7 linked regions of the Homo sapiens genome follow. The protein of the gene in region 4 interacts with the protein of the main gene of each other region in a biochemical or structural test. Each region holds a gene or a part of one and is shown on either strand. Other genes may lie near its edges. The genes, in order: PPP1CC, IFI16, AATF, AURKA, ARPC2, OTUB1 and INCENP.

Evidence for each region.
Region 1: the proteins of AURKA (region 4) and PPP1CC form a complex in vitro, tested with the Homo sapiens proteins (one study listed by BioGRID).
Region 2: the proteins of AURKA (region 4) and IFI16 form a complex in vitro, tested with the Homo sapiens proteins (one study listed by BioGRID).
Region 3: the proteins of AURKA (region 4) and AATF form a complex in vitro, tested with the Homo sapiens proteins (one study listed by BioGRID).
Region 5: the proteins of AURKA (region 4) and ARPC2 form a complex in vitro, tested with the Homo sapiens proteins (one study listed by BioGRID).
Region 6: of the proteins of AURKA (region 4) and OTUB1, one has a biochemical effect on the other in vitro, tested with the Homo sapiens proteins (one study listed by BioGRID).
Region 7: the proteins of AURKA (region 4) and INCENP form a complex in vitro, tested with the Homo sapiens proteins (3 studies listed by BioGRID and IntAct, with this or other methods).

The regions. Positions count from the first base shown.
Region 1 is NC_000012.12:110,722,536-110,726,642, forward strand, and holds part of PPP1CC (serine/threonine-protein phosphatase PP1-gamma catalytic subunit), read right to left. Parts: intron 2,230-4,107; coding exon 2,125-2,229; intron 161-2,124; coding exon 1-160. UniProt on the Homo sapiens protein: Protein phosphatase that associates with over 200 regulatory proteins to form highly specific holoenzymes which dephosphorylate hundreds of biological targets.
Region 2 is NC_000001.11:159,012,628-159,016,878, reverse strand, and holds part of IFI16 (gamma-interferon-inducible protein 16), read right to left. Parts: exon of another isoform or gene 3,399-4,251; intron 3,313-3,398; exon of another isoform or gene 2,829-3,312; intron 2,219-2,828; 5' UTR 2,211-2,218; coding exon of another isoform or gene 2,199-2,210; coding exon 1,934-2,198; intron 1,008-1,933; coding exon 892-1,007; intron 347-891; coding exon 179-346; intron 1-178.
Region 3 is NC_000017.11:36,955,155-36,959,405, reverse strand, and holds part of AATF (protein AATF), read right to left. Parts: intron 1-4,251. UniProt on the Homo sapiens protein: Part of the small subunit (SSU) processome, first precursor of the small eukaryotic ribosomal subunit.
Region 4 is NC_000020.11:56,368,890-56,372,803, forward strand, and holds the end of AURKA (aurora kinase A), read right to left. Parts: intron 1,771-3,914; coding exon 1,596-1,770; intron 1,452-1,595; coding exon 1,269-1,451; 3' UTR 501-1,268; downstream 1-500. UniProt on the Homo sapiens protein: Mitotic serine/threonine kinase that contributes to the regulation of cell cycle progression.
Region 5 is NC_000002.12:218,244,573-218,248,470, reverse strand, and holds part of ARPC2 (actin-related protein 2/3 complex subunit 2), read right to left. Parts: intron 3,052-3,898; coding exon 2,925-3,051; intron 2,646-2,924; exon of another isoform or gene 2,553-2,645; intron 1-2,552. UniProt on the Homo sapiens protein: Actin-binding component of the Arp2/3 complex, a multiprotein complex that mediates actin polymerization upon stimulation by nucleation-promoting factor (NPF).
Region 6 is NC_000011.10:63,989,438-63,993,688, reverse strand, and holds part of OTUB1 (ubiquitin thioesterase OTUB1), read right to left. Parts: intron 1-4,251. UniProt on the Homo sapiens protein: Hydrolase that can specifically remove 'Lys-48'-linked conjugated ubiquitin from proteins and plays an important regulatory role at the level of protein turnover by preventing degradation.
Region 7 is NC_000011.10:62,147,639-62,151,218, reverse strand, and holds part of INCENP (inner centromere protein), read right to left. Parts: intron 2,744-3,580; coding exon 2,665-2,743; intron 2,481-2,664; coding exon 2,373-2,480; coding exon of another isoform or gene 2,340-2,372; intron 1,163-2,339; coding exon 1,012-1,162; intron 1-1,011. UniProt on the Homo sapiens protein: Component of the chromosomal passenger complex (CPC), a complex that acts as a key regulator of mitosis.

The sequences.
Region 1 (4,107 bases), on a different chromosome or scaffold from region 4:
CCAAATGTGAAGGACACTCCTCTGTCATTTTCACCCCAGCCTAAGACATCTTTATCGGGGTCAGACCACAAAAGATCACAAAGAAGACCTTGATCTGGTACATCAGTTGGTCGCATAATTCGCCGAATCTGCTCCATAGATTGAAGATCTGGTGATAAACCTATTCAATGAGGAAAAAAAAAAAATGAAGAAAGCAGAACTTTTAAAAGGATACTACCCCTTCAAAAGTTCCATTTGTCTACAGAGAAATTCAATAATCCTGACATAAAAACTGAAATCTATGATTATATTTTATTTACTTTTGGTTAAAAGAAAAAAACACAGAAAAAGGACAACTGGATACACACTAGAATTACATGCAGTAATGCATGGGGTGCAGTAGGTTTAAACAGTACATGGAAACAATTATATTATACAGAACACTGTAAAATAAAATCCAGTGATTTAAAAAACTCTTCTATGGGCTTCCCCCAGTTGATGACAATAATGAGCGATGTTATGATTGATGGCTTATAATGACTGAGCTGAGAAGATAAGGATGCTCAGTGTGAGGTAGTTCTCTAGGAAACCTGCACTGTTCACAGACCATTAAAATCTACAAGAGCTTATTGTATCGAGTTACAATATGGGATGCATATTGTAAGAGTTAAAAACCATGTATCCAACTCTACCAAAACCTAAGTACAGAAGCACAGAGATAAAAGACATTATGCAGGCTTTTTGATGGCTAAAATCTACAAGAGCTTATTGTATCGAGTTACAATATGGGATGCATATTGTAAGAGTTAAAAACCATGTATCCAACTCTACCAAAACCTAAGTACAGAAGCACAGAGATAAAAGACATTATGCAGGCTTTTTGATGGCTGATTAATTTCAGACCATACAGGAAAAGAAATTCTCTTTGCAATTACTATTTTAATTACATTATAGAAAGCACAACCACTGAGCAAAGCAAAACAGCTTATAACATATATATGTATATATTTTCAGAGATAGGGTCTTGCTCTGTTGCCTAGGCTGGAGTGCAGTGGTGCGATCATAGCTCACTGCAGCCTTAAACCCCTGGGTTCAAGCGATCCTCCCGCCTCAGCCTCCCAAATAGCTACGGCTACAGGTGTGCACCATTACACCTGGCTAACTTTTACAACTTTTTCTAATGACAGGGGTCTCGATATGTTATAGGCTGTTCTCATATTCATGGCATCAAGCAATCCTCCTGGCTTGGCCTCTCCAAAGTGCTGGAATTACAGATGCGAGCCACTATGCCTGGCCAAAATAACTTTTAAAATCCAAGTCAGAGAAAGTTCTGAGAGGATAAAAAACAATCAAGGGAAAATCTACTCACATCTTGAGTGTTCTAGAGGATCTCTGGCACAACAAATTACACATTGTTCATTTTATAGTTAAAAACACTCTTCTGCCGGGCGTGGTGGCTCAAGTCTGTAATCCCAGCACTTTGGGAGGCCGAGGCGGGCAGATCACGAGGTCAGGAGATTGAGACCATCCTGGCTAACACGGTGAAGCCCCGTCTCTACTAAAAATACAAAAAATTAGCCAAGCGTGGTGGCGGGTGGCTGCAGTCCCAGCTACTCAGGAGGCTGAGGCAGGAGAATGGCGTGAACCTGGGAGGCAGAGCTTGCAGTGAGCCGAGATGGTGCCACTGCGCTCCAGCCTGGGTGAGAGAGCGAGACTCTGTCTCAAAAAACAAAAACAAAAACAAAAAAAACCAAAAACTTTTCTAAGCCGGGCACAGTGGCTTACACCTGTAACCCAGCACTTTGGAAGTCCGAGGCAGGAGGACTGCTTGAGCCCAGGAATTTGTGACCAGACTGGGCAACGTGGTGAGAACTCATCCTTACAAAAAATAAAATAAAAATAAAAATTTTCTGCTCTATTTTCAAACCTAGCTTACAGAGTCTAGAATTCCCTGTAATAAATCAATTCCTTAAGATTTTTATCCAAATGATCCTGGCTGTATCAGAGTGAAAGTGCAATGCAACACATCAACAAAGGAGAGTGTTCTGTCAGAGAAAGTCATCCCAATGATAACTCACAAATGTTAAAGTGTTCACCCTTTGGAAGGGATCAAAACCTATTTGGAACAAAAATCAGCCCACCTACCTCCATGACAGCAGAATATCTTCTCATCCACGATGGCTGCTATCGGTAAACAGTTAAAACAGTCTGTGAAAGTTTTCCATAGTTTAATGTTGTATCTTCTTTTACCTGTGATTAAAAAGAGAGTATTACATTAAAAAGAGAGTATTACTGTTCCGTAGGCTCATTCTCTCAGGATTAACTTCCCCCAAAGCAAGATTCTGGGTGCCTTTTAAGCAAATGAAACTATGTTTTTATTAAGAATCTTAATAAAACCATCTTATTTTAAGGCTCTTTTAAAATAAGAGCTGGGCGTGGTGGGTCAGACCTGTAATCCCAGCACTTCGGGAGGCTGAGGTAGGAGGATGGCTTGAGCCCAGGAGTTCAAGACCATCTTGGGCAACATAGTGAGACCCCATCTCTTTAAAGAAAGACTCTCCTAGAGGGAAGGGGTTTAGGAGAGACACATATCTGATCTAAAAGCAATGACTTACATTTTCACATGAAATCTTTTTAAATTCCACAGAAGCATGAAACCAGAATTCCAGATTTGATAATGATTAAGGACTGCCATCAAATCCCAGGAATTATCTGGGAGCATCAATTCTGTTTGAAATTGTCTGCTCTGTCCAATCTCACCGCAGCTAGTCCCCTACTTCTGAATTCAATTACGAACTTACACATGTGGCGTTATGACCTTCCTTCTGAGGAAACCTGAGAGTTAGCACCCATCCCCCATATATGCCCCTCAATAACCTACTGACACCAGAGGATCCCCAGCCCTCAGTACTCTAGCAGGAGGCACAATGATCACACGGCAGTGGCTGCCTCTCACAGGCACTACAGGGCATTTGTTTCCAACACTGCACAGACTCCACATGCTCCCACAGGCCTGATGTCACAGGATGGTCATGTTCCCTCAACAGCACAGGCATCCACACATTCTGGAGTCAGAGTGCAGTTCTGACAGAAATATGCCTCTATGCACTGTTTCTACAGGAAACTGATGTTCTGAGTTTAAAACCTAGTCACATACCTTGCAAGAACAAATTTCTCTGGATTGGTTGAGGATTGTCCAATTGTCCAGATGCCTTTGTTTCCTGTACTTACTATACTAAGCACAATCTTTAAAAACCAGGAGTTTGGCCAGGCGCGGTGGCTCACACCTGTAATCCCAGCACTTTGGGAGGCCGAGGCGGGCAGACCATCTGAGGTTGGGAGTTTGAGACCAGCCTGACCAACATGAAGAAATCCCGTCTCTACTAAAAATATAAAAATTAGCTGGGCGTGGTGGCGCATGCCTGTAATCCCAGCTACTTGGGAGGCTAAGGCAGAAGAGTCACTTGAACCTGGGAGGCGGAGGTTGCGGTGAGCCTTGATTGTGCCATTGCACTCCGGCTTGGGCAACAAGAGCGAAACTCCGTCTCAAAAAACAAAACAAAACAAACAAAACAAACCAAGAGTTTGTCCTTAGTCTCTTTTCCTGGGGAATACAGGGACATCTAAAGGTTTAAACCTATACCTCTCCTTTGAGAGTTAGAGCCAGCCCAAGCAACTGACCTGAACCACACCTCCCACCCTGTAATGCAAATCAAGCAGCTTAGGGAGTTTACCACAGGGCTTGAAATGAAATGTAAATTCAACAAATGTTTGCCTTCTCTCTGCAGAGGAGTGTTATCTTTTCTCCTAATAATTTCTGGTTTCTCAATGACTGGGTCTAACACTGACTATGGTTCACCCTGTTGCATATTTCTTTAGAGGTCCTTCACTAGGGGGTTCGGAAAGTTTAACAAACTTCTCCCGCCAGGCTGAGGAAGGAAAATTGCTTGAACCTGGGAGGCAGAGGTTGCAGTAAGCCAAGATCGCACCATTGCACTCCAGCATGGGCAACAAGAGTGAAACTCCGTCTCAAAAAAAAGCAAACTCCTTCTTACGAAAGGCTGAAGGGCAATCTCCAAAAACCACCAACTCCCATTTCCAACAGCAATACTACTACTACTACCACCA
Region 2 (4,251 bases), on a different chromosome or scaffold from region 4:
ATAATGTCAAGTTCATCAAGTATCCCTGTGAAAGCAAAAGATCAAAATGTAGTGGTTTCTCAATATGTACATTGGATTAACTAGCAAATTATCGATGCAATTTTTAAGTAACCGGTGAAATCAGTCCTTTACTTTGGGTTGAAAAAAACAAAGCAAAATGGGACCAGGAAGAGTGTACCTCAGTTGAAGAACTGTTGGGTGGAGCTGACAATGAGGTCTTGGGAGATGGGGAACGGCCCATGGCTGTGGACATGCCGGCTCCTGCAGGAGAGGGAGGCTGAGTCTGTTCCTCGGACACCTTACTCCCTTTGGGTCCAGCCTTTTCTTTGGTTGATTTTTTTCTTTTCTGAAAGTGGTTTGATTTTCCTGTTATTCGTTTTCAGTGCCAAATGAAGTAGAGCACATTTTCATTATTGGATAGTAGTTTTATTATTCCTAAGAAGATGTTTCTTGGAAACTTGAGAGGTTGCTGCCCATCTCTCGCCAGTTTAAGAGATGGGCATAGATGGTTTCATTAAACGAAGAAAGAGGAGAATGTTATACACATTATTTCTCTAATTATTTCTGTTATGGGATGTGCTGACTTGGGATTAGAGAAACTAGGTTTTTATACACATGGACAAAGTACTTACCTGATTCTCACGTTGACACTCCACTCTACTAGAATGAAGGTATCACATTTATGTTATATATATTTACATTATGTTTACTCATGTGTTTGGTGCATTGCTTTGAGCATCAATAAGATGATCAATTATCATACAATTTGGTAAATCTGAAACTTGATGGGAAACATGAAGAAATAACTGCCTGCTGGAGAGATTGAGTGGAAGAGCCGTAGCAGAGCTTCCTCTGTGGGACTTGAAGCCTGCTCCTCTTCCTGAAGCTTACCTGAGCTCCAGGAGTTGCCTCTGCTCCTTCAGTTTTGACAGTGCTGCTTGTGGAGGGTGCAGGTGAAGTAGCATCCACTTCCTTCTTCCTCTTTCTTGATAGGGCTGGTCCTTTTACTGGAATAGATTCAATTTTATTCCCAACCAATGCAGAAAAAAGGAAGACATATAAACGATCTCCGACAGCTGAAGCAGTTTCAATACAATTTGCTCTCAGTTCCTGCTTGAGGGTTCAGCTGTGCTTTAGTCTAGCTCTACTGCATTAGCCCAGCCTGGCCTTAAGGAGACCAGCAGTCACAAGACAGGAACAAGCACTGACTCATGCTCCTCAGCACTTTCCTCACTCCTCCCCTGTGCACTGAGCACATGCTTCCTGTTCTCTGAACTCCATGTGCTTCAGTTAACCCTTTCCCAATGCGGTTCTCCGATCATTTTGTTTTAAAAACTAATGTTTTCATGATGGAGACTGCTAGGTCACATTCCCCAGGTAAAGATATTCAAATTATAGAAACCAGCCAAAGGTTTCCATGAGGAAGGATATACTGATTTTGGACTTAGACTTTTTCAAATCCTTTTTTTTAACTTGATATAACAAGAGAGGAGATCACACTTCTGAGAGGCAGGCTCACATGTAAGTATTGCATTTTTTTAAATTATAAAGGGTAGTGATGGGTTAAATGGTCTCAATAGAACAGATACATTCATTGGCTAAATGTACATATCTTGAATTTAAACAGTTTTTATGATTTTATTATTATATAATCTTTCTAATGTACTGGAAGTCTCAGTCCCCCTTCAACTCCCTCTCACTTTTGTTCTTTCACTGATCCCAAATATACATTCTGAAATACTTCAATCTACACCAGTAATGGAATGCACTAAGTTGTCAACTTGTTGGCCTCTGAAGTACCAACATTGTCTCAGCTGTTGAGTCACAAACTGGGGAAAACACATCTCAAGTATGTCCGAGGTGGGGCTCTAATCAATGTTGGGGAGGGTTTGGGGATGGTTGCAGGGAGTGGGTGTTCCCTCTTCCCAATTACCTTTTAACTTTTCTTTTTTAAGAGTTTCAGCCAGGTCTTCAAGCGTTGGTATATCTTCGAAAATTTTTATTAGTTTGCCCAAACCAGCATCACCTCGGAACTTTTCTTCCATCAAGTCAGCAATCTGAATTTTGTCATACTCTTCTCTCATTTTTAAATTAAGTTTTAAATCGTTGCTCAGTAAGGACTTAACCATTCTAAAATGATAATCATTGATGACCTCTAATCCTTTTAGTAGAACAATGTTCTTGTATTTTTTTCCCATCTTTACAGACATAAGTGAGCCTACAAGAGAAAATGGTATATACAGTGTTACACATGTATACAGACAATTTAAAAGATGTATGCCTATGTGAGTGAGTGGCCCATATGAAAGAGTTGTTCATGAATATGTGTGATAAAGAAGGACTCAACGACCAAATGTGTTACTGTAGAAATTGAGTGAAGAACTGCTGGGTTAGGAATGTCTAAGAAATTATTCCCATTGAATGAGAATAGTTGAGTTGGGTCCAGTTGTTAGAGGGAGGTCTGAGAACAAGCAATTGCCTCAGTGTTAAGAGTATGAGCTCTGCAGTGTCAAAGCCCTTGGTTCCTCTTCTTATCCTTTACTGGGGCTGAAGCCTATTCCCCAAATCCTGCCTGTTGTTTCTTAAATCTTCCCACACCCAGTATGACTGGAGCGGCCTAGGTGTAAATGGGCTGCAGCCTCCCACCTTATATGAATAACTTTCTGCTACAGCGCTACAGTTTCATGCTGTGGCACTGACCCTATTCTCCTTGACTCTTCCCTAGTTGGCTTTCATTAGCATCCTCCCTTCTTTGGTGCTAGACCATGGCTTCTGTTCTCTGTACCCATAAAACCATAACTTTGCTGAAAATCTGCATGCTTTCTAGTGCAGCATCACAGTATTTATTCACTGAAATGATTTTATTGGTTGTTTTATTTTTCTTCTTTCAGACTTGATTTGTCTAATTATTTCTTTTCGCACAATCAGTTTTCTCTCGATAAGCCACATTTATATTCCACTGAAATCCTTCAATATTTCTCCTTTTTCTTCCCCAAAATTCCTTGCTTCCTATACTGTCTCAGAAAGTGTTGAATAAGCTGCATCTTTTTTACTTCTAGTACCTTTGTACTCCTTGTATCTATGCTTCACAAAGATGCCGGACACCTTGTGTCTTCATGCCTCATGACTTTGCTAGTTCCTTCTTACTGCCTGGAAAGCCATTCCCACATTTCTTTCTTTGACTACTTCCCATACAACCTTAAGACTCAACTGAGGCTTTGTCTCATGGTAGATTTCAGAGTCTCCCTATGGACAGAGTGTCACTGCTCTTGACCTCTTAACACCTGTACACTTCCATGATGACAGTGCAAGGTATGGATTCCAAAACTTTTAAATTAATGAATTTTTTAATTTTAGGAATGATGTCTTTGTGTATAACCAAGATATCTAAATTTCAGGGGCTATTAATTGGGCCAGGCGCAGTGGCTCACGCCTGTAATTCCAGCATGTTGGGAGGCCGAGGTGGTCGAATCACAAGTTCCGGAGATCAAAAGCATCCTGGCTAACACAGTGAGACCTCGTTTCCACTAAAAATACCAAAAATTAGCCAGGTGTGGTGGCAAGCGCTTGCAGTCCCAGCTACTCGGGAGGCTGAGGCAGGAGAATTGCTTGAACCCAGGAGACGGAGGTTGCAGTGAGCGGAGATCGTGCCACTACACTCCAGCCTGGGTGACAGAGTGAGACTCCGTCAAAAAAAAAAAAAAAAAAAAAAAAAAGCTTCCTTCTTACGAGAACATGAGGATCCTTGGACTGAAAAGGTCCAGAGAATGAAGGGAAAATCTATACAAAAACACATTATAGTGAAACTGAAGAATATAATGAACAAAAATACTCTGTAAGCCTTCGGTAATGAGGAATAGATCACCTACAAAGATTCAAGAATCAAATTGAAAGTGAATCTCTATATCAAAACTGCCTGAAGCAGGACAATGGAGTTATTTTTATATAATGTTGGTCCAAAGTTCCATATCAATTGCAAAACCAAAAAAAATTTTCAATGGAAAGTTTTGACTTATTTTGTGAGTGTGCTAGAAACAATAAGTTCGTCTTCAAACTTTCCTGTTCTTTCCTGTTCTGTAAACAACCCTTCCTTCCTTTGCCGCCCCAGACATGCCTTCCCGCCTAATTGGTACAGGACAGTGTCTTCCTTCCCGCCTAATTACCCCTATAGAATTTAAAGCAGTAGCCAATCCGGTCAGCTTAGAATGTGCATTGTGACTGACGCAGGCAGCACCCTTCTGTAGAAGCAAA
Region 3 (4,251 bases), on a different chromosome or scaffold from region 4:
AATGGCATGATCTCTGCTCACTGTAACCTCTGCCTCCTGGGTTCAAGCAATTCTCCCACCTCAGCCTCCTGAGTAGATGGGATTACAGGAACCCACCATCATGCCTGGCTAATTTTTGTACTTTTGTAGAGACGGTGTTTCATTATGTTGGCCAGGCTGGTCTTGAACTCCGGACCTCAGGTGATCTGCCCACCTTGGCCTCCCAAAGTGCTGGGATTACAGGCATGAGCCACCACACCCAGTCTGTATGTTTGTTTTTTTTGAGACGGAGTTTTGCTCGTTGCCCAGGCTGGAGTGCAGTGGCGCAATCTCGCCTCACTGCGACCTCCACCTCCCGAGTTTAAGAGATTTTCCTGTTTGGCCTCCTGAATAGCTGGAATTACAGGTGCCCGCCACCACACCCAGCTAATTTTTTGTATTTTCAGTAGAGACGGGGTTTCATAATGTTGGTCAGGTTGGCCTCGAACTCCTGACCTCAGGTGATCCACCTGTCTTGGCCTCCCAAAGTGCTAGGATTACAGGCATGAGCCACCACACCAGGCCAGTTATGTTTATTAAGAAATTACTGTTAATGTTTTTACATGAGATTATGGTATAATTTTTTAAAATCCTTATCTTTTGAACATACATGCTGAAAATTTTACTGATGAGAGAATGTGTATTATTTGCTTCAAAATAATCCAGAAGGTGAGCAGAGTTGGTACAACTACAGATGAAATAAGATTGACCATGAATTGATTATTGCTTAAGCTGGTGAAGGCATGTGGGGGTTCACTGTGCTATTTCTCTACTTTTATATAAGTTTGATATATCCCATAATGAAAAGTTTTAAATAACTCATGGTGAGATTTCCTTAAGTAACTTCCCTTCTTCCTTACATATCATTGCCACCAACATAAAAGATGTATTTCCTAATACAGTAGAAATTCTAAAAGAGAGAAGGCCAGGCACAGTGGCTCATACCTGTAAGCCCAGCACTTTGAGAGGCCAAGGTGGGTGGATCACAAGATCAGGAGTTTAGGACCAGCCTGGCCAACATGGTGAAACCCCATCTCTACTAAAAAAAATTACAAAAATTAGCCGGGTGTGGTGGCATGCGCCTGTAGTCCCAGCTACCCAGGAGGCAGAGACAGGAGAATCGCTTGAACCTGGGAGGCAGAAGTTGCAGTGAGTTGAGATCGCACCACTGCACTCCAGCCTGGGTGACAGAGAGAGACTCCATCTCAAAAAAAAAAGAAAAAAAAGAAAGAGAGAAAAAGCAAACCCTTTTAGAGAAATGGTTTTGTGCACAGAAAATCCCTTAATTTTGTTAAGATTACTCCATGACTTACCACTTATGCAGCCACTAAAATATCAGACGATGTCTTTGAAATCACTTCCACAGTTCAAGTTTAAATTACCAACATGTAACACCAAGGTGACTGGGGACTAAGTTTACGTGTTTGGGGTGGTGTGTGGAGAGGAAGGAGATATTCATTTAGTTTCTGAAAAGTAGAGTTTAGGGTGCTGAAGCTACAAAGGCATGGTACTCAGGAGTTTACTGGAGCTAGAATACAGCTGGAAGTCTGTTATTTTAGAGGCAATAGTTAGGGTTATCAGAGTAAGTGACAGTGCCAAGGAGAGACTATATTGAGAAAACGCAACCTGAGGACAGGATTCTAAACGGAATGAAATTTACATTGAGAGGATACAAAAGGAACCAGAGAAGAGATCAGAAAGGTAGGAGAACCCAAACAGCACAGGTAGTGTCACCAAGCCAAAGAAAAGTATTTCAAGGAAAAGTTAAACGCTTCAAGGAGGTAGTAGCTGGGTATAGCAATAAGGAAATCTGTAGCCATCTTTCCATAGCGTCGTAAGAGGCCAACACTGCATTGTAAGTATTAGTAAACTATAACACTTTCCAGAACAATTAGTTAATTTAAATTATATAAAGAATCCAAATACTAATAAAAAAGTAAAAAACACTGAAGACTAGTGAGGCTCAGTTACACTGATAACTATTGAGTGATTGCTCACATGGTCGAACACTGCCAAATGCCTCTTTGAGCAGAAAAAGATAATATTAGTACCTAACATTCATGGTGAGATGTGTGCCAGACACTGTGCTAATGCTTTCTATTGATTATGTCCTTTAATCCTCACAACCATATTATCCCCATTTTACTGTGAAGTTAAGTAACTTGCCCAAGGTCACATGGCTAATCCATTGCTGAGATGAAATCTAAACCAAGCCGGTCTGACTTTAACTACTCTGTAAGACCAAGCAAATTGAAAAGAGATTTAATTAAAGACAGTAAGTTCCAGTGGTTGTTCTGGGGTTGGTACAAATTCAGCCTATGTTCCACACCAGCTATACAGCACAGTAATAAATTGGTCATCCAGAGTAATGTGCTCAAGAATTTTCTCTCTCTCTCTCTTTTTTTTTTCGGGGGGGACAGTTTCGCTCTTGTCGCTCAGGCTAGAGTGCACTAGCACGATCTCAGCTCACTACAACCTTTGCTCCCGGGTTCAAGTGATTCTCCTGCCTCAACCTCCCAAGTAGCTGGGACTACAAGTGTGTACCACCATACCTGGCTAATATTTTTATTTTTATTAAAGATGGGATTTCACCACGTTGGCTAGGCTGGTCTCAAACTCTTGACCTAAAGTGATCCGCCTGCCTCAGCCTCCCAAAGTGCTGGGATTATAAGCGGGAGCCACCGTGCCCGGCCAAGAACTTTTTTTTTTTTTTTGAGACGGAGTTTCACTCTTGTTGCCCAGGCTGGAGTGCAATGGCACAATCTTGGCTCGCTGCAGCCTCCGCCTCACAGGTTCAAGCAATTCTCCTGCCTCAGCCTCCCGAGTAGCTGAGATTACAGGCACCTGCCACCACACTTGGCTAATTTTTGTATTTTCAGTAGAGACGGGGTTTCACCACATTGGCCAGGCTGGGCTCAAACTTCTGACCTCAGGTGATCAGCCCACCTCGGCCTCCCAAAGTGCTGGCATTACAGGCGTGAGCCACTGCACCCGGCCAAGAATTTTTTTCTTAAAGTCTGTTTATCAAGACAGGGGAGTATACAACATATTATGTCATATTGCCACAAGAAAAATTAGCTACTCTTCAAATGCACAGCTCATTACTTGAAAACTCCCTACCCTCCCACCTTAGAATATGTGATACCAAACTTCCTTTCTTCTCCCTCCTCCACCACAACCCACCCTGTCAGATTAATAGATGCTGTCAGATTAATTGAGGTTCATCAATGAGGTAAAGGCAATTGGTTAAGTACAAAAAAGAGTAAAAAGATCAGAACAAAATAAAAGTTAAATAACACTGCAGTGATTAAAGACACTAAATGAGTTGAGTATGGTGGCTCACACCTGTAATCCCAGCATTTTGGGGAGGCTGACACGGAAGGATCATTTGAAACCAGGAGTTTTGAGACCAGCCTGGTCAACATAGTGAGACCCTATTTCCACAAAAAAAGAAAAAATTAGTCGGGCATGGTGGCTCATGCCTGTAGTACCAGCTACTCAGGAGGCTGAGGCGGGAAGATCACTTGAACCCAAGAGTTCGAAGCTGCAACGAGCTATGATCACGCTACTGCACTCCAGCCTGGGCAACAGAGCAAGACCCTGTCTCATAACAAAAAGAAATTAAATCGTATCCAAGAATATGTGTCCATTATACTGGACACTGACTAACCCCTAAAATATCTATATTTAAATATGAATTTTTTAAAATGAAAAAGGCTCAAGCAAAAAGAATAATGAGTAACAAAATGAAAACAGGCCTTATCGTGAAACATTTAAAACATTTAATCTAGAGCAGTCTAGGTCTCATTCCAAAGGCATACCAGGAATTAGGGTACTAGGACACTAAAAATAGCAGAGAAGTGCTCCAAAAATCTCAAAAAACTTGAAAACCATCAATCTGTCATCTATTTGAGAGAGAAAGGAGGCAAAGACAGGGGCGGGGATATAAATGGCCCACCTCACCCACACAGGCCACGTAAGGCTCCTGGGAAGGACTGCCCAGACTTCCCACAGGGGAAGAAGCAGACTTTAAGTGTGGCGGGACACAAAACCCAAAAACTGGACTCTAGGAAGCCATTCCTAATTACATCAGGTATTCACCTACAAGAAACGTTCACTGAACTCCCTACCTGGGAAATCCTACACATTGATCTTGAATGTCTTAAGGCGGTTCTACCTACAGGCAGATGCCAAATTAGATATCCTCCTCAGGTCCCTTCCAACTCTAACTCC
Region 4 (3,914 bases):
GTCAGTCACGTGATAATAACTATAGCTTGGGAGGGTGGCACATGAACTATTTGGGAAGGTCAAAGTCAGTTCAGCTCAAGACTATGAGAACCAGAAGCCCCTTTGTCCCAAGGGGGCTGGCAGCTGCAGTTTTACTGAGTCATGTTTTTAAGTTTCTCTATATTGGCCACTTTGTTATGACATATCCTGACATACCTGCTGTCCAGTTTCTTGCACTGAGCATTGGCCATGCAAGCAGATTTCTCTACTAGCTCTAAGTTCAACACTTCTACTTTTCCTTCATCACAGTCACTTTCACCGTATCTTTAGTCGATGGACAGATGACAAAGATATGACAAATATATAAACAATATATATAATGAAGTATTAGGAGTACACCCAACAGGAGAGACCAGAAGAGGCAGGACTAGATGAGGGCGAGACCTGCTCCTCTCAGCCCCTGCTCATTTCCAGGCCAACAATGAACAGATGGTGGAAAGAATTACACAGCACTCCACACAGACATAGATACTTATTTATTTGCATATTTAAAGTTTACACACATGCTATGACTCCAATGTTTTAAAAAAATAAGCCCTTAACAGCTCTGAGACACATGGCCTCTTCTGTATCCCAAGCAAATCCCTAAATGGAGGTAGAGCACGTGTTCCTATTTTTCACACTCTCATATGGGAGATAAGTGGTTAAGGAGGACTAGAAACCCAATCAGGCCTACCGGGGTGCCGGACAGACACACAGCATTCCTAAAGGAATGCCACCAGAGAAAAAATACAAGTCTGTACATATATCTTTATTTTCATACTTAAAAAGAATCACATACTCATTCCAACAGCTTTACCAGGCTTCGCCAACCCAATAAGTTACACACTCACTCAGGTACTAGGAAGGTTATTGCACAGCTCCTTAACTGATCGGGGTCAGGGCAGAGTGGTCACTTTCCCCACAGCCAGGCTCTGGATTTGCCTCCTGTGAAGACACCATGCCTAGCACAGGCTGACGGGGCGGCTGCAGTCGAACCTTGCCTCCAGATTATGAACCAGTATAAGTAGCACAATTCTCGTGGCTACTTTCACTTCAGAGTGTCATGTTTATTGATGTGGAGCTTTCTGAATAGGGAGGTTAAGGCACACCTGCTGAGTAAAACAAATATTTCTTGTGTAGCGTTCTAGATTGAGGGCAGCAGTCAATGGTAAAATAAACTTCAGTAGCATGTTCCTGTCAGGTTATATGGCAGCCCTGGCTCAAGGATTTCTCCCCCTGCACGATTCCTAAGACTGTTTGCTAGCTGATTCTTTGTTTTGGCAATTTGATGGTTTTGATGAATTTGCTGTGATCCAGGGGTGTTCAAGTACTTCTCTGAGCATTGGCCTCTGGCTGGGATTATGCTTCAACAGTCTTGAAATGAGGTCCCTGGCTCCCTCTGTTACAAAGTCAGGGAATGTGAATTCAACCTGGAGTACAACAAATGATAAAATATCACAAAACACAGGTTAGAGAGATCAAATAGTATAGATGTTCGGATCTTGGCCTGCAGTTCAGGCTGATAAGGAAAGAATTCCAGCAGATGTGCTGGGTCCTTTTCAGTTGCGTCTTACCCGTGATATTCTTTTGTAGGTCTCTTGGTATGTGTTTGCCTCAAAAGGAGGCTTCCCAACTAAAAATTCATAGCAAAGAACTCCAAGGCTCCAGAGATCCACCTTCTCATCATGCATCCGACCTTCAATCATTTCAGGGGGCAGGTAGTCCAGGGTGCCACAGAGAGTGGTCCTCCTGAAAACGGAGGGAGGCTCAGGTTGATGTGCTTCTCGTTTTATGATCACAACAGCTGCTAACAATCATTAAAGAGTCCACTAACACTGAGGTCTTCCCCTGGGCCAGATCCTGTGCCCTAGGAAGTAGCTACTATTATAAATTCCCATAGGAAACAGATGAAGCGAGGTGTGTAAGGTCACACAGCTAGCCATCAGGCTTAACCCCAAATCTGTCCAACTCCAGAACCTCCCTGAATAATCTAGAATGTAAGAAACTGAATGTATCACTACCATATAAAAGCTGCCATGCAAAGTTCTCTGTAAATACGATTTGGATTCTACATCTGCATGTGGATATTACAGATATGCTAAGAATCTTAAAAGCCTGGTCGCAATGACAATACACTAGAAACTGTCCCACTGTAACAGCACTGGGGTGGAGATGTAGACACATGCTGCCTTGTGATAGATACTTGGTACGAGTGATGCTGAAATTTTGAGGGTGGCCTATGAAGTACTCTTGCCAAAAATATTTAACCTGGCTGGGTGCAGTGGCTCATGCCTGTAATGCCAGCACTTTGGGAGGCCGAGGGAGGCGGATCACGAGGTCAGGAGATCGAGACCATCCTGGCTAACATGGTGAAACGCCGTATCTACTAAAAATACAAAAAATTAGCCGGGTGTGGTGGTGTGCGCCTGTAGTCCTAGCTACTCAGGAGGCTGAGGCAGAAGAATGGCGTGAACCCGGGAGGCGAGCTTGTAGTGAGCCAAGATCGCACCACTGCACTCCAGCCTGGGTGACAGAGCGAGACTCTGTCTCAAAAAAAAAAAAAAATTTTCTTAACCTGAATCTCTTCAGGACCTGAGACCTACATTCCAGTTTTCAGCAAATACGGGGAATAAAGGTCCAAGTTAAGTGGCAACACAATCAGAAAAGTCCTCTTTAAAGTGGGAGACTGGTCTGGCTTTAGACCACAGAGACAATCCAACCACAGAGACAGTCCAACCACAGAGACAGTCCAACCACAGAGACAATCCAACCACATAGACAGTCCAATACAAAGCATGGGCTTTGGTTGAGTTCTGATTTTACAAACCAGCTATAAGATGTCATGGACAATAGGAGAAATCTGAATGTGGACTAAATATTAGATACTGACAATGCTGTTAATTTTCTTAGGAGTGATCATGGTTCTAGTTATATAGGAGAATATCCTTATTTAGGAAATGCATTCTATTATAGTGCTTAAGGTTGAAGCATCATGATGTTTGCAACGTATTTTCAAGTGTTCACTAAAAAAGCAGATGCAGCCCTTCTGACTAAATGGGAAAAACTGCTGAACGTAGGCACTGTATAGACAGGTATGCCATCAACTACCAATTCCGCATTTTTATCGGTTTAGGTTTTTTTAACGAAGGTTGGAAAAAAGCTGGGAACAGCAGACAGCAAGCCAGAACAGTCTGTGTGGGTTCGTGTTGCTTTGTTATCAGCTGCTCTTCACCATGGAGGCTTACGTGGTCACAGCCCTGGTGCTGTGTTCAGCCAGGCCTGGCACCCACTGAGCACACAAACAGTCACTCACCACTGAATTGTGACGTAGGATTAAGAAGCTACCACTCTGGTCATCTAACCCCTCCATCAGCACCGACGGACTGAATCGGGGGTTCTCAAACTGAGGCAATAACCAGGAAATGATGATGATTAACATCTGGGATTTGGAGTGAAGTGACTATCGGTTATGTAAGTAATCTTTTCAAAAAGCAAGAAGCCATCTTTTCTATCACAATTCAACCGGTTAAGATACAGTTTAACTCTGCGATTCCATGAAGCCTGTAAGTCTTTATTCTGGTTTGTCTCACCAGATAACAGCTCCCACTAATGACAACCAGTTTAAAAAAAAAAAAAAAAAAAAAGACTGCAATAGCAGATTCAGTGCATTGCTGGAACAATTAGAAGTGCTCTGTAACAAAAGCAAAGGTTTTCTCCCTCATATTCTATTTTAGGCTATACTTTTTTTTTAACTAGCTTGATTTTTAAGTCATTTGGCTATAATTTGAGTCCTCCTCCAAAGTTGACAAAACTTCATCGGTAGATATATGTTTTAAAATGCCCCACTTCATGTGAAGTTTCAAAGCTTATTTAAACTCAAATTTAAAACAGTA
Region 5 (3,898 bases), on a different chromosome or scaffold from region 4:
ACCTGTGTGCTCATCACAAAGTCCTTTGCACTACAGCAGGCCTGCATGCCCCTCTTGCCCTGGTTTTCTGGAATCGTTTTTACCTGCTGCACCTCCTCTACTCACTATCTGCAAAACCCCGTCAGTTGTCTGAAGTTTTCGTTGAAATGAAAAGGAATGCCTCCTAAGGAAGTGTGGAATTTCTGTGTCAATGTGCCCTGGCCTGAAAGTAAATGAACACCACAACAGAAGACAACTATACTTCAAAGAATCTAAGGTGCTTATGACTGTAAGTCTGCCATAATTTTATGTACCACAAGAGAAACATGCTGCCAATTAAAGTGTGACATGCTATGAATTGTAAGATGCATCCCAGCTTCAAAGACAAAAACTTGAAAAAAATGGTATAGCTGGCTGGGCGCAGTGGCACACGCCTGTAATCCCAGCACTTTGGGAGGCTGAAGTGAGTGGATTGCTTGAGGCCAGGAGTTGAGATCAGCCTGGCCAACATGGAAACCCTGTTTCTTTTTTTTTTTTTTAATTTTTTTTGAGACGGAGTCTTGTTCTGTCGCCCAGGCTGGAGTGCAGTCGCGTGATCTTGGCCTATTGCAAGCTCCGCCTCCCAGGTTCACGCCATTCTCCTGCCTCAGCCTTCAGGGTAGCTGGGACTACAGGCACCCACCACCACGCCCAGCTAAGTTTTTGTATTTTTTGTAGAGATGGGGTTTCACTGTGTTAGCCAGGATGGTCTCGATCTCCTGACATCGTGATCCACTTGCCTCGGCCTCCCAAAGTGCTGGGATTACAGGCGTGAGCCACCGTGCCCAGCTGGAAACCCTGTTTCTACTGAAAATACAAAAATTAGCCGGGTGTGGTGGCACACGCCTGTGGTCCCAGCTACCTGGGAAGCTGAGGCACGAGAATTGTTTGAGCCTGGGAAGCAGAGGTTGCAGTGAGCCGAGATCACACCACTGCACTCCAGCCTGGGTGACAGAGAGAAAGAAAAAAGAAAAAAGTGTATAGTTTAGATTTAATGAAATTTGGTAAATCAACAGATTCATCACCAATAAACAGGTTCACCTTTACCACTGAGGTGAATTAAATTACATTTCACAAAGGAGACATTCCAGTGGCATTGGGTGCAGTGTGAACAAGCTTATTAATTCCAAACTGTAAGCTATCATAATCAGCCAGTGCATGAGGCTGGAGCAACTGAAGGAAGACCTGAATTTATTCCGCGAAAAAGTGGAGTAAGTGGATCACGGCTGGAGCTTGGGCTTAATAAGCAAAAAACCAAGAATTGCCAAATGACAGAGAACCCCCATCTAGCTGCTTAGGTGGTTCTCTTCTTAACTCCTTTTTTTGGTGAGATAGGGTCTCACTCTGCCACCCAGGCTGGAGTGTAGTGGTGCCATCACAGCTCACTGCAGCCTCTACCTCCTGGGTTCAAGTGATCCTCTCACCTCAGCCTCTCAAGTAGCTATGACTACAGTCATGCACCACCATGCCTAGTTATCTTTTTTTTTGAGACAGTCTCCCAGGCTGGAGCGCAGCAGGATGATCTCGGCTTGCTGCAACCTCCACTTTCTGGGTTTAAGCAATTGCCATGCCTCGCTTGCCCGAGTAGCTGGGACTATAGACTATAGGCACATGTCACCATGTCCAACTAATTTTTGTATTTTTAGTAGAGGTGTGGTTTCACCATGTTGGCCAGGTTGGTCTCGAACTTCTGACCTCAAGTGATCTGCTCGCCTTGGCCTCTTAAAGTGCTGGGATTACAGGTGTGAGCCACTGTGCCTGGCCCCTTGCTTTTTGTAGAGATGAGCCTGCACCATGTTATCCAGGCTGGTCCCAAACTCCTGGACCCAAGTGACCCACCAACCTCGGACTCCCAAAGTGCTGGGATTACAGGTATGAGCCACTGTGCCCCGCCTATCCTTTACTCTTTTCTTTTTTCTTTTTGAGACAAGGTCTCACTCTGTCATCCAGGCTGGAGTGCAATGGTGTGATCTCAGCTCACTGCAACCTCCGCCTCCTGGGTCCAAGGGATTCTTGTGCCTCAGCCTCCCGAGTAGCTGGGATTACAGGCGCACACCACCACGCCCAGCTAATTTCTTTGTTATTTTTTTGGTAGAGACGGAGTGTTTCACCATGTTGGTCAGGCTGGTCTCGAACTCCTGACCTCAGGTGATCTGCCCATGTTGGCCTCCCACAGTGCTAGGATTACAGGCGTGAGACACCGCACCCAGCCTCAACTCTTTTTTTTTTTTTTTGGAGACAAGAGTCTTGTTCTGTTGCCCAGGCTGGAGTCCAGTGGCACGATCTCAGCTCATTACAACCTCCACCTCCCGGGTTCAAGCAATTCTCCTGCCTCAGCCTCTGGAGTACCTGGGACTACAGACGTGCGCCACCATGCCCAGCTAATTTTTTTTTGTATTTTAGTAGAGACAGAGTTTCACCACATTGGCCAGGATGATCTTGATCTCCTGACCTCGTGATCCACCTGCCTTAACCTCCCAAAGTGCTGTGATTACAGCCATGAACCACCGTGCCCAGCCAAAACTGTACTTGTCTCCTTCAAGCTGGAATCGAACCAGCAACCTAAGGACGTCTCCTACTGAGGAAGTAGCTATAGTCCTCTGCTCTACCAGCTGAACTATTGAAGGGACCTTAACTCTTGATATCAGAATTCAGTCTTATTTTTAAGATTTAAGAAAAATGGGGAAAAAAAGGAAAGGATTACTGTACAAAAATAGCATATGGCCTGCTCTGTAATTAATACCCTGTGACATCCCTCCTTTAGTCACTGCAATGGCAACAGGAACAAGTTGGTATGCCTGCGTTTGCCTACCTTAAAATGTTAACCAAGGTTCTGTGCAGATTTAGGTATTCTGCTGTGTGAACTCATTAAAGCGGCACAAAAGCAGCAAGTGCACCCTGCTCACCAAAGGTAATGTAGCCAATGTTGTCACCCACAGCGGCGTCTGTGTCTTTCAGCTCCAGAGGAGGTTCCCTGTGGCTAAAGAGGACCTGTGGGGCTGTGTGGCTGGCTCTGCGTCCTTCTTTGAACTCCTGCCAAGACAAAGCAAAAGCAACCAGAAGAGAAGTGGGTGTAAGATGAGTGGCAACTCAAGCTATAGGGTTTGTTCTATGTGGTGTGACCTTTGTAGCCCTCCAGACCAGCAGGAGGTTAAAAATAAACTACACCAAACCTGAAATATGACAAGTGCTAGCTGCTACCACTACACTTCAGATTCAAACGGGAGAGACTGCAAAGTACTTAATAAGTCAGATCTTCAAAATGTGATGAAAAGTAGTGATAATCCTTTTCCTTTGCACTAACATAGGTGATAAACTACCATACTTTCTCTGGGCTCTGGGACTTTGCATGAGTCTTTTTTCACTGAGGATCCTGTTGCTATTTAGAATTCATCAATAAAATCTTTAGAGCAAACTTAAGCTCTTCTTGCGGACAGAAGACAATGGAATGAAAGAAGCTGAGTTGTCTTGGTGCTCATAAAGGAAGCCCTTCCTTCTATGTTCCAATCTCCAAACCTGAAGCTTCTACAGTCCATACATTCCTATGTAAATAGACAAGTAATACAAGGCTTCTCTCTCTCAGCCAGATCTGCAAGAACAGAAGTAGATTTTCTAGCAATGCCAGTAAAACTGGATAATCCAAATTCATCAAGTGGGCCTTCCAAGATGATAGACAGCAGGAGGATGCTGCCAAGGACTCTCCAAGGTCTCTTGTTTTAGGAGTTCTGAAGGCATGGTTACACAGCCATGTGGCCTGCGTGCCCTTCTACTGCTGCTCAAATACTGCCTCCTAATACCATCTCCAACAAACCCAGGCAGGTACTGCTCTCTTGCTGGAGCTGCCATGTCTTTTCTACAAACCTCTACTATGATATTTTAC
Region 6 (4,251 bases), on a different chromosome or scaffold from region 4:
CTCAAGCAATTTTTTTTTTTTTTTTTTGAGACAGTCTCGCTCTGTCGTCCAGGCTGGAGTGCAGTAGCGCGATCTCGGTTCACTGCAACCTCCGCCTTCCGGGTTCAAGCAATTCTCCTGTCTCAGCCTCCTGAGTAGCTGGGACTACAGGCGCGCGCCACTATGCCCGGCTAATTTTTTTGTATTTTTAGTAGAGATGGGGTTTCACCATGTTGGCCAGGCTGGTTTTGAACTCCTGCCCTCAAGTGATCCACCCACCTTGGCCTCCCAAAGTGCTAGGATTACAGGCATGAGCCATTGCCCCTAGCCAAAGTCTCAAGGATTTAAATAGCCCCAAGTGTGAATCTCAACTCTCAACTCCAATTACGATCCTCCTATCTACCAGCCTCACCACACCTCCTCTGAACTGTCCAACAGGCATTTCCACTGAGTGCAGCTGAGATCAACCTCCGAACAACTGCTCCTCCCCGAGGCTGCCCCACCTCAGTCACCCACAGCACCCAAAGCCTTCCAGTCGCTGCCGACTCCATCACCATATCCATCCCTTCAATATGTCTGGTATCCAACTGCTTCTTACTCCTCACCTCTACCACCCGCTGCCCGCCTCCAGCAGATTTTACTGCACAAGTCTCCTGGCAGTGTCCCTGCCTCCCCTTCACCCTCTGGAGTTTATTCTCACCCCAGCAAGAGAATGGCCAGGGTCGGCTTGGCGTGATGGCCCAGGCCTGTAATCCCAGCACTTTGGGAGGCCAAAGTGGGTGGATCATTTGAGGTCAGGAGTTCAAGACCAGCCTAGCCAATATGGTGAAACCCCGCCTCTACTAAAAATACAAAAATTAGCCAGGCATGGTGGTGGGCATCTGTAATCCCAGCACTTTGGGAGGCCAAAGTGGGTGGATCATTTGAGGTCAGGAGTTCAAGACCAGCCTAGCCAATATGGTGAAACCCCACCTCTACTAAAAATACAAAAATTAGCCAGGCATGGTGGCGAGCATCTGTAATCCCAGCTACTCAGGAGGCTGAGGCAGGAGAATTGCTTGAACCCGGGAGGTGGAGGTTGCAGTGAGCTGAGATGGTGCCATTGCACTCCAGTGCACTCCAGCCTGGGTGACAGGGCAACACTCTCTCTCAAAAAAAAAGAAAAGTGACCAGAGTCACCTGCCAGATGCACCCTATCTCCATCTCCCTCAGAGTCCTTTCTCTCGCCACAACACCCCACCCCGCCCCGCCCCGCTCAGTTCCCCAGCCCCAACCCCTCATTCTCCACCAGCCACACTGGCCTCCATGCTGGCCTCAAACCATCCAGGTGCCCTCTCGCCTCGGGCCTGGGTGGGCACTGCTCTCGGACGCCTGTGACTCGCTCCCCGGTCTTTTTCTGTTCATTACTCAAATACCACCTCATCAGCAAGGCCTTCACCAAGCCCTGTTTAAAATGGCAAATGCTCCCACTCCCAATCCCCTCTTTTTTTTTTTTGAGGTGGAGTTTTGCTCTGGTCACTCAGGCTGGAGTGCAGTGGCACAATCTCGGCTCACCGCAACCTCCACTTCCCAGGTTCAAGAGATTCTGCTGCCTCAGCCTAAGTAGCTGGGATTACAGGGATGCGCCACCACACCCGGCTAATTTTGTATTTTTAGTAGAGACGAGGTTTCACCATGTTAGTCATGCTGGTCTCGAACTCCTGACCTCAGGTGATCCACCTGCCTCAGCCTCCCAGTGTGCTGGGATTACAGGCGTGAGCCACCACGCCCGGCCCCGATCCCCTTTTCATTTTTCTCCACAGCACTCACCGCCTTCTGATACCCCACATGTCCCAGAGCCCTCTTTGGCTTATCATGTCTTTCCACCCTGAACTGTAAGTTTTGTGAGGGCAGGACTTTGTCTGCATGGCTCTATCTTCAGTACCTAGAACAGCGCCTGGACCACAGTCCGTTCTCAATAAACGTTAAATGAGTAGCACACCAGGACCACAAAGAACCCAAATCACCACTGCTACTGTAGCAGCCACCATGGCCATTGTGAGCACACTCTCTGTGCCAGGGATTTGGCACAGGGCGAATAAACGTCATCCTAATTGATCCTCACAAGAGCCCATTTAGAGAGAGAGGAGCTCTCTCTGCTTGGGCTCTGCTGCCACAGCTGTCTCTGCCCAGGGAGAAAAGGTGGGCTCAGGCACAGCATACAGAATGCGGGTGCTGGGGGCACAGAGAGGCCTTTTAGACAGCATGCTCTGGACATCCAAATGTTTGATGACTCCGTGGGAAGAACCTGGGGCCCAGCCTGTCCTGTCCACTTTACCAGGGTGGTCTAGCATGAGCGGCAGGCCTTGGCATGGGGGGTCCCACTGGAGGACACTGACATAAGAGGAATGAATGAATGAAGCTCACCCCCTGTATGGGGAGAGGAGCAGCTTTGTAACCCGCTGCTTACAACCGCCCGTAACATCTCCTTCAACCCTCACAATTGCCCTGTGAGGCAGACAATGTCCCCGCCCAGAGAGAACAGGGGATCCAAGAGCTTCAGGGTGTTGCCCGAGATCACACAGCTCAAAGTGGTGAGGCCAGGACTGGAACCCAGGCCCATCAGGCTCCACAGCCAGTGCCTTCATCTCTCCACAGGCACCCTGAGGAAATCTAGCTCCCTGAGGAGGGGGCCTCAGTAGATCACAGTGCACAGATCTCACACAGCTGGATCTGGCCTGCAGGTGTGTTTGGCCCACACATTTAAAATTTGAATTAGCTGCCAACTGTTAGAAGTCAGGAGCTGTGGTTACCTCTGGCTTCTCTTGGAAAAACAGATCTGGAGACAATGGTATGGACACTCCCATTTCCCCCAGGGGCCTCTGCTCCCTATTAGTGTCTGGCTGATACTGAGCTGTGCTGCCCTCCTTGTTCACCATCTGACTTCCTGGCCACCTTCAATCACCTGGGTTACCTACCTGGCCACAGAGGCCTCCCCTACCAGTAGAGGACTCTAAGCATCTGTCATCTTCCAGGGGAAGAGAAACATTTACTAAACACCTACACTGAGCCTACCAGATACTGTTTCCACACACCCATTGTCACATTTATTTATTTATTTATTTATTTATTTTTTTATTTTTTTAAGAGACAGGTCTCACTGTCACCCAGGCTGGAGTGCAGTGGTACAATCATGGCTCAACTTCTTGGGCTCAAGTGATCCTCCAACCGCAGCCTCTTGAGTAGCTGGGACTATAGACATGTGCTACCACACCCAGTAATTTTTTGATTTGGAGAGACAAGGTCTCACTATGTTGCCTGGGTTGGTCTTGAACTCCTGGGCTCAAGCGATCCTCTGGCCTCAGCCTCCCAAAGTGCTAGGATTCCAGGCTTGAGCCACCATGCCTGGCCCCATTTCACATGTCATCCTCCCAGCTCACAGACCTAGAAAGTGGGTGGTGAAGTTTGCCTCCGTTTGAGTGATGCAGCAGGGCCCTTTGAGGAAATCTGTGGCCCCTTGACCCCACTGCTGCCTGCCTCTCCACAAAGATCCAGGAGGCAAGCTGTGGGAAACAGCCCTCTGGCAACCCTCCTACCCCACTGAGCACCAGCCTGGTCAGCCCCCGTATGGGCACCGAGATCATCAGCTCCTGCCCAGCCTGCACCTCCCTCAATCTCACAATCGCCCTATGGGAAGATGCTTTTTTTTTTTTTTTGAGACGGAGTCTCACTCTGTCGCCCAGGCTGGAGTGCAGTAGCGCGATCTCGGCTCACTGCAACCTCCGCCTCCCGGGTTCACACCATTCTCCTGCCTCAGCCTCTCCGAGTAGCTGGGACTACAGGTGCCCACCACCACGCCTGGCTAATTTTTTTGTATTTTTAGTAGAGACGGGGTTTCACCGTGGTCTCGATCTCCTGACCTCGTGATCCGCCCGCCTCAGCCTGCCAAAGTGCTGGGATTACAAGTGTAAGCCACCGCGCCAGGCCTTTTTTTTTTTTTTTTTTGAGACGGAGTCTTACTCCGTCGCTCAGGCTAGAGTACAGTGCGGGATCTTGCCTCACTGCAACCTCCGCCTCCCAGATGCAAGCAATTCTCCTGCCTCAGCCTTCCCAATAGCTGGAACTACACGCGCGCACCACCACTCCCAGCTAATTTTTGTATTTTTAGTACAGATGGGGTTTCGCCATGTTGACCAGGCTGGTCTCGAACTCCTGACCTCAGGTGATCTGCCCGCCTCAACCTCCCAAAGTGCTGGGATTACAGGCGTGAGCCACCGTGCCCGGCCAGAAGAT
Region 7 (3,580 bases), on a different chromosome or scaffold from region 4:
CTCAGCACCAGGTGCGGCTCTAAGGGCCAGCCGTGAGCTCACTCATGTCACTCTCAACAGAACTCCTCAGCTGGGTCTTGTCTTCACCCCCCTTTCACGGATGAGGAAACTATTTAAGTAAGCTGTTCAAAGTCACCTCCGATTAGATGGCTTTGCAAGCGAGCTGGCTCCTGCTCACTGCCATCTCCCAAATGACTTGACACTAGTAGTTAAGAGGCTTAAAGCACATGCCAGTTACTGTAGGGTTCAGATGAGGTGAAACTCACAAAAACAAGTTTCTGTAGTGTGCCTACCAGCTATGGGATTCCAGGCCCTTCCCTCTGGGGCGTCTGCACCCCTCCCTGACTTCCGGCTCAGCAACCACTGCAAGGCACCCATGGTACCCACGGGCCCCATCCACTCTGGCAGCACCCACTTCTAGCACCTACCCTGCTCACTCAAGCTGGCCTTGCACTCAGGCCTGAGACATTGCAGTCACGCTCACCCACATTCTGGTTTAATGCTGGGGCCTGTAAACTCCAGGTCAGATCCTGCTCAAGTGCCTCATGCACTCCTCAAGGACTTTCCTGCCTCCCCGAGCTGGCTGGAAGCCCCAGGCTCCAGCTTGGTGTTCTGCCTAAACCCTTCCCCATTCTAGCTCTGCCTCTGCCCCAGGTGGCTTACTTAGGTCCAAGTCTCTTCAGCCCTGCTGGATGGGACTCTAAGGAAGGGCCTAGTCCAAGTCAGGACACCCAGCAGCATATGCCATGCCCAAGCCCAGCACAATTTCATATATTTGTTGAGAACAAAGGAACCCAACCTCATAGGTCTGGTCCTCAGGAAAGCACAATGACCACAGGGTGCCCCACACTCCCCAGGGCACATGCATACCCAAGGCTAGAGCCTCGAACTGCCAACTGAAGCACACGGCAGCCTCCCAACACCGCAGCAGCCAACCCACTACTTCCAGGGCCCTCAAGGTGAGGACCAGGGAGGGCCTGAGTCTCCCAGGGAGCTGTGGGCTTTGCTTACCTCGGGCCCAGGTGGGGATGGGCTTCCGGGGATGGGCCTCATCATCGGTGGAGTCGTCGCTATTCAGATCCATCCCGTAGTTATCTGGGTTGATCTTGGGAGGGGCCCTGTGCCCTTGCGGAGTCATCTGATATGAGGTACAAGCTGGAGACTGCAAAAACAAACGTGGCCGTCAGTTCCCTCCATGGCATTCCCATCTCTCACCACCGAGGAGTGCTGGGGCACTGCTCACCTCCTCCTATTTCACAGGAGAAACAAAAGGTGCAGGATCACTTTTTCTTTTTTTTTGAGACAGAATCTCACTGTCGCCCAGGCTGGAGTGCAGTGGTGTGATCTCGGCTCACTGCAACCTCCGCCTCCCAGGTTCAAGAGATTCTCATGCCTCAGCTTTCCCAAGTAGCTGGATTACAGGTGTGCACCACCACACCCGGCCAATTTTTTGTATGTTTAGTAGAGACTGGGTTTCACTATGTTGACCAGGCTGGTCTCGAACTCCTGACCTCAAGTAATCTGTCCCCTTGGCCTCCCAATATGCTGGGATTACAGGCGAGAACCACTGCACCAGGCCTACTTTTTAATTTTAAAAAGTCACAGAACACACACGACTCTGTATCTCCTTTTTTGATGCTAAGGTGTATTGCAAACTTTCTTCCAGGTCAGTGTGTCTAGAATCCTCCTGGGAACCACTAAGGAGACTCCAGGATTTGCAACGTAACCATCCATCATTGACAGATACCATACTAACTTCCAAGTTTTCCACATCTTAACAATGCTGCAATGAAAACATTGTTTTGTTTGGTAACAGCAGTGAAGTGAAAATAGATCAAATGCTCATCAAGAGGAGCCGGCTGAATTCCAGCACAATTAAGGTACACAGCCATCAAAACTAAGAAATTGACCTGTGTTGAAATAGACAGATGTCTATAATATACTAAGTGAAAAAAAACCATGGGGGTTGGGGGCCTGGAAATCAAGCCACCAAATGGTATGTGCCCATTTTAAATATGTATGTGTATGGGTGAAAGAGAGAGAGAGAGAGAGAGGATATCTGTGTGTGTGTTAAAAGGGTTACATAAGTAAAAATCTAGAAGGATATACAACGCGCTTAGTAGAGTTTTCCTGAGGGTCCCTTTTTTTAAAACTGTATACTCTTCTATAAAGTTTAGTTCCTTTTTATCCCCCACCTCAACAAATTCTACTTTTAGAATAACAAAGAATATAAAAAGAAGTAAAAACAATTGGGCCAAGTGTATCTGTCCTTTTCCTTAGGGGCCTAACACAGCCTGTGCCTCTAGCTACTGGGAAGAGAATAGAGTGGGCCCCTCCACCTGAGAGCCTCTCCACTGGGGCCCAGGTGGCACCTGCACGTCCACAGTCACATTCAGGGCCTTGCTGGCCCCTGCTGCCTCCTTGGCTTTCTTCTCTTGCTCCTCCTGCAGCTGCCGCTCAGCCAGACGCTGCTGCTCTTCCTGGAACCCAGGTGGCAATGGGGTGTTAGGGAGCTGTGCAGGTGCCCTTCCCTCCCCTCCCCTTCCCTCCGCTCCATTCTCCTCCCTTTCCCTCCCCTCCCTAGGCAGCCCCTGCTGCAGGAGTCCAGACCCGCCCACAGCTCAGGGCAGACCCCAGGGGAGCCCGCAACCCAGCTCCCCTCACCTTCTTCTTCTTCTCCTCCAGTTCCCTCTGCAGCTGCTCCTTCTGCAGCCGCAGGGCCTTCTCCCGCTCCTGCAGCTCCCTGAGGACCCAGCAAGAGCCTGTTAGGACAGGAAGTGGAGGCCCAGCCCAAGCCCTGTTCCCATCCCTGCTGGGGAAACCAGGCCCAGCCAGTAGGACACACCTTAGAAAGTGGGATTGCTGAATGGGCAACCAGCTTAGAGCCAAGAGCTGCGCTTTTGCCCCGGGGCTAGAAGTGTGCACACCTGAGGGTGCAGGGAACACAAGCTGGAGCCCAACATTTGGCCCCCACTTTTCCTTGTAACTTGGGTCTCTGAGCCTCATAACACTTTTATACAATGGAGACCATAACACATTTCCTCCAGGGTCAACATGAGAATCAAATGGGATAATCCACAATACCCCTTTTTATCCTAACCTTCAGGGCAGACACTGGCTCCAAGCATGAACAAGAGGCTGTGGATGAGTTCTGGAGTCACCTCCACAACACACTGGCTCATGACTTTGAACATGTCATTTAACCTCTCTGGACCTGTTTCCCCCTGTGTGAAGTGGAGCTGATGGCTCCCATGCCACCATGGGCTTCAACTGAGGACTAAACAAGGAAACAGGTGTAAAGCATGCAGCTCGGGTACCCACCAAAGCTGCCGACACTATGACTATCACACCGCCACCCTCAAAGCCCCCTGCTCTGCCCAGCACCCTGCACATTAGCTACACCCTACGCCTTCTCGCCTTCCCAGACTCTGCCCAGAGGACCAAGGACAGCTTTGTCCCCATCAAGCAGCCCTGACTCAGTGCAGCCCCCTGGCTGTGACTCTTCACTTATCTGATAAACCTGAAGCCACCCACGAAGATGGACACGGAAAAAACGTGCTGCCCGGTGTTTCCCAGGAGG